2 separate regions of the Homo sapiens genome follow, and region 2 is linked to region 1. Evidence: fine-mapped expression QTL. A gene starts in region 1. The other region holds a variant in brackets. All regions are shown on one strand. Distances are between the middles of the regions.

Evidence for each region.
Region 2: its variant is fine-mapped to the expression of FKBP9 in whole blood (INTERVAL, PIP above 0.99).

The regions. Positions count from the first base shown.
Region 1 is chr7:32,956,003-32,958,918 of GRCh38, forward strand. FKBP9 (FKBP prolyl isomerase 9) reads left to right here and starts at 1,438. Exons shown (of 10, transcript NM_007270.5): 1 at 1,438-1,792. The coding sequence starts at 1,572. RefSeq lists enhancers at 285-1,235, 1,085-1,134 and a silencer at 1,225-1,694.
Region 2 is chr7:32,976,571-32,979,486 of GRCh38, forward strand. All of the region lies in intron 4 of FKBP9 (FKBP prolyl isomerase 9), which reads left to right. Among named protein-coding and RNA genes, the nearest start is that of FKBP9, 21 kb to the left of the region's middle. RefSeq lists an enhancer at 2,308-2,916. The variant CAT/C (reference allele first, on the strand shown) is at 1,216.

The DNA.
Region 1 (2,916 bases):
ATTGCAACCTTCGACTCCCAGGTTCCAGCAATTTTTCTGCCTCAGCCTCCCAAGTAGCTGGGACTACAGGCCGTGCCACCACACCCTGCTAATTTTTGTATTTTTAGTAGAGCCAGGGTTTCACCATGTTGGACAGGCTGGTCTTGAACTCCTGACTTCAGGTGATCCAACCACCTCGGCCTCCCAAAGTGCTAGGGTTACAGGTGTGAGCCACTGCGCCTGGCCTAATATGCGGTTGAATCCGATTTTATTACGTTTTATTCAGTATTTTTGCATTTATATTTATAAATTAGATCGTGCCCTGTTTTTTCAGTTTTATTTTTCTTTTTTGTTGCTCTCTTTGCCAGGTTTTGGTATCAGAATTGTGTTTGCTTCCAAAACGAGTTGAGAAAGAGTTGGTGATTTGCTTTCATTATTCCAAAATTTTAATAAATTATAACACCCAATTCCAATTCCAAGTGCATCTGATTACTCTAATGGATTCCTGTGGCTTCTGGGTCTCTATGATGAAGTCCTCCCTGGCATAGGCTCGTATATGGGAGCTTGTAGGATGTCTGCAAGTATCAGCTCACAGTGCGGCCGCTGATGGCTTGGAGGACCCTCACGGTGCCTTAAAACTTTTGCCTAGACAAGTGTCACGGGAGCCTCTCGCAATACATGCCTCCCTTTTCTTTTTTTGGAGACAGTGTCTCGTACTGTCGCCAGGGCTGGTGTGCAGTGGCGCGATCTCGGCTCGCTGCAACCTCCGCCTCCCGGGTTCCAGCGATTCTCCTACCTCAGCCTCCCGAGTAGCTGGGACTACAGGCACGCGCCACCAAGCCTGGCTAATTTTTTTGTATTTTTAGTAGAGACGGGGTTTCATCATGTTGGCCAGGATGGTCTCCATCTCCTGACCTCGTGATCCGCCTGCCTTGGCCTCCCAAAGCGTTGGGATTACAGGCGTGAGCCACGGCGCCCGGCCTTCCTTTTCCTTTAAGCAGTATTAAAAAAAAAAAAAAAAAGTCCTGAAGGATGGTTTCGGTCTCTTTCAAGGTAGACCATACCCTTGTAACTAAGCTTAAAAAATTAAAATCTAATTTTCCCTCCCTCTCCAAAGCAGCAAGGGAAAATTGGATCCACGGCCACGTAGGAGCCCCTCACGGCACCAAACCCGGTGTCTCCAGGGACGGGCGGAGACCAGCGGGTGGGCTTGGGCAGTACGCGCTTTTCTCTTCCGACTTTGGGCCAAAGCCTTGTCCGGAGATCACAGTGTCTCGCTCGGGGACACGCCCTCTCTAGGCCCAGACTTGGTCCCCACTGGAGTTCCCAGCCCCCCTCCCCGCTGCGGCACGCACATTCCCAATGCCGGGCGGGGCAGGGCGCAGCAGGCCCGCCCTCGGCGCGCGGCCAGGCTGGGCTCCTCCCCTGGAGCTGCGGCCGGGAGGGCGGGCGGCCGGGGAGACGGGGTGGCGGCTGCAGCCCGGGTAGGGCCAGGAGACCCGGTCCACGTTTGCAAACGCAGCCGAACGCCCAGGCCGACCCGTGCCGCCCGAGCGCCGCGCTGCGTCCGCGCCACTCTTCTCGCCGCCCCGATGGCGTTCCGGGGCTGGAGGCCCCCGCCGCCACCGCTGCTCCTGCTGCTGCTCTGGGTGACCGGGCAGGCAGCGCCCGTGGCGGGCCTGGGCTCCGACGCGGAGCTGCAGATCGAGCGGCGCTTCGTGCCCGACGAGTGCCCGCGCACCGTGCGCAGCGGCGACTTCGTGCGCTACCACTACGTGGGGACGTTCCCCGACGGCCAGAAGTTCGACTCCAGGTACCGCGCCCTTGGCGCCCGGCGCGGCCTCAGCGGATGCGCGTCCCTCTCTCCGGACAGGCCTTTCCCTCCTGCCGGACCTCCCCTAGCTCCGCCCCGTGCAGCCGCGCTCCTCCCTTCTTCCGCTGCCCAGATCCTCCCGGACCCCAGACCCTCCGCCGCGGGTGAGCCTCCCGGCCCTCACGTGCCCTAGGCTGCCAGCCGGGGACTGGACCCTTGGAGGACCTTGAGCAGCGGGGTTGGGGCAGACCACGTCCTCCCTTTCCTCCCAGCGCATGGACACACGCAAAATCAGTGTAAAATAATCAGTGTAAGTGGAGGCCACGTTGCACAACTGGACCCCCAAGAGTGGATGTTCGTGCCTGCCTCTCTTCGCCCTTTCCTGTTCCTTCCCTCCGCTCCCTTGGGAATCTAGTCAGATGGTGCTTCTCACACAGAACAATGATGAAGAGGCTAGCAGCCCCAAACATACAATGAGCTGTTAACAATGTGTAGGTGTAGTTCTAAGTACTTTCCATATTGTAGTGAACTCATTTAATTGTACAGCAGTCTTGTGAGGTAGGTACTATCACTACCCTCATTTTATCAGTAAGGTAACAAGCAACTGCGGCTAAGAAACGTGTTTAAACAATGGAGTCAGATTGTTTAATCCAACTCCAGAGTCTGTGTGCGCAACTACCACTGCCCTTCCTTTCCTGCCATACAAAAACCTCTCTTGGGGCTGGGCGTGGTGGCTCACGCCTGTAGTCCCAGCACTTTGAGAGAACGAGGCGGGAGGATCGCTTGAGCCCAGGAGTTTGGGGCTGCTGTGAGCTATGATCGTGCCATTGCACTGCAGCCTGGGAGACAGAGAGAGATCCCATCACAAAACAAAACACAACACGACACCTCTCGTGGGCAGGAGGTAGTCCAGGACCGTCACTCTGCTTTATACCAGGCCCTATATCAAGCCCAGAACTCCTTCTCTCAGCTCTGCCTCAGGATCACAGCACTGCTCTCCCGTTTCCCTCCAGTTTAGGTTCGGGGTTAACAGGCCTCTCTTCGTCCAGCACCAGGCTACTCCTCGCCAAGGCTTTTGTTACAAACCCTGGTCTGTGCCAGCACTTCCCTTCGCGAACACTAGA
Region 2 (2,916 bases), 21 kb after region 1:
ACCACATGAAACCCACTAGACCTTTCGGTCTAGACCTACACTGGCCAATATGGTAACCACTAGCTACATGTGGCTATTAATTAGCTAAAATTTAAAATTCAGTTCCTTGGTCACACTGCTACATTTTAGGTACCCAATAGCCTCACGTTGCTGAGGACCACCATAGTGGACAGTGCAGATACAGACCCAGATCATTTCCATCACTCAGAAAGTTCTATTTGACAGTGCTAGTCTGGATTGTCTGCTGTCTGATGATTGAGTTGCAGAAATTTCCACTTACTTATAGTCATTGGCATTCATAAGTAACCCCCTCTGCCCCTGTTGTACCTGCCATGGCCTTGGCCACCAACCTCTCTGGCTTTAACATTTGTGAAATGAGACTTGAATTAGACACTATAAAAGTTGCAGATATCCAGGTAGAAATTTAGCCATACAATGTCAGAATTGCCAGATTTCCCCGTTTGCACCTCTATGATGAGTTTTACCTATGGCATTAACTCCATATGGACAAAAGCAAAGTGTAATGTTAGAAAACACATTAATTACAACTAGTGTCCTGTTTGTAGTTTTACTGTGAAGGAAAACACATAATATTGACTGATAAATGGAATGTCTCAGGTACTCATGTTTGAATTTCAGGTGCGTTTAGTCATATTGACATGCTGGCACAACATAGAGACCGGTAGACATTTAAACAGCAGATGGATACAATGATGTGTTGATTCATAATGGGGATATGTTCTGAGAAAGGCATCATTAGGCAATTGCATTGTTGTGCAAATGCCATAGAGTGCACTTACACAATCCTAGGTGCTACATCCTGCTGCACACTTAGGCTGTGTGGTGTAACCTGTTTCCTCTAGGCTGCAAACCTGCACAGCATCTGTACTGAATCCTGTGAGCTACTGTAACACAATGGTAAGAATTTGTGTATCTAAACATAGAAAAGGTACAGTAAAGACATGATATGATAATCTCATGGGACCACTCTCATATATGTGGTCTGTTGTTGACCAAAACTTCATTGTGCAGCACATGATTTTGTAGTTAAGGATATAAATGAGAACATGATGCTTCTTAAGAAGTTTACTGATAGTGATAGCCAGCTTACAATAGCCAATATGTTTTCAACGTTTTTTCCTGGCTCTGTGGAGCGGAGCAGGAGCAGAAGGGAGCCTGAGGTGATGGGGCTCAGCCTTCTCTCCTTTCTATCTC[CAT/C]ATATATATATATACTTATATATATATATGTATATATACACGCCCATATATATATATACACTCATATATATATATACATGCCCATATATATATATGTATATATACACTCATATATATATACTCATATATATATACACTTTTTTTTTTTTTTTGAGACAGAGTCTCACTCTGTTGCCCAGGCTGGAGTGCAGTGGTGCGATCTCGGCTCACTGCAACCTCTATCTCCTGGATTCAAGAGATTCTCCTGCCTCAGCCTCCTGGGTAGCTTGGACTACAGGCGTATGCAACCATGCCTGGCAGATTTTTGTATTTTTAGTAGAGACAGCATTTCGCCATGTTGGCCAGACTTGTCTCAAACTGCTGAGGTCAAGCCATCCATCCACCTCGGCCTCCCAAAGTGCTGGGATTACAGGTGTGAACCACTGTGCCTGGCCCACTTTTATATATTTTACATGCTGGGGATCTGCAGATGGTTTCTTAAACAGAGCATTAGGGGTGGAATTCCCTACTAAAAGAAAAATAAAGTTTAAAGCAGTGCCATAAATATGTCTTAATTCTCCCCCCCACTGAGATATAAGATACTGTTATTATTATTTTTAGAGACAGGGTCTCACTCTGTCACCCAGACTGGAGTGACACCATCATAGCTCACTGTAACCTCAAACTCCTGGGTGATCCTCCTGCCTCAGCCTTCCGAATAGTTAGGAGTACAGACGTGTGCCACCATGCTTGGCTAGTTAAAAAAGTTTTTTTAGAGACAGTGTCTCGCTACGTTACCCAGGCTTACCTGGAAATCCTGGACTCAAGCGATCCTCCCACCTCAGCCTCCCAAAGCGCTGGGATTACGGGTGGGAGCCACTGTGCCTGGCAGTTACTGTTTTCTTATTGATGTTCAAATGGTCTTGTCCTTGGCCCCAAGAAGTTCATTCACGTTGGCTCCCAGATCCTTTTGTCATCAGCCACATAACAAAACCAGATGTGAGCCTAATATGAGAAATATTATTTCTTTACTTTAAATAAATAATAGCTTATTTAGAGTAGTTATTTTTGAATACTTTATACTTGAATACTGTGCTCGGCTATCCAAGTATAACTTTAAATGGGTGAACTGTATGGTATGTGAATTATATCTCTGCAAAGTTGCTATAGAAAACATTATTCATTTAGTACACATTAATGCTAGAAAAATTGAAACCCCAGGCCGGGCGCAGTGGCTGCCGCCTGTAATCCCAGCACTTTGGGAGGCTGATTTGGGTGGATCGCCTGAGGTCGGGAGTTCAAGACCAGCCTGGCCAGCATGGGGAAACCCCGTCTCTACTAAAAATACAAAATTTAGCCAGGCGTGGTGGCAGGTGCCTGTAATCCCAGCTACTCGGGAAGCTGAGGCAGGAGAATCGCTTGAACCCAGGAGGCGAAGGTTGCAGTGAGCCAAGATTGAGCTATTACACTCCAGCCTGGGCAACAGAGCGAGACTCCGTCTCAAGAAAAAAAAAAAGAAAAGAAAAATTTAAACCCCATGGTTACTTTTAAGGCTTTCATTTTTCTCTTAAATGAAAAGATACAGTAAGGCACAAAAGATTAATATTCTATCTCCCACGCATGCGATTTAGGGATTGACCACACCTTGCATTCCAGGGGCTGACTCAGCAGCCGGCTTTCAGCAGATTTCATCATTCCTTGGATGGGAAGGAGATGCAGG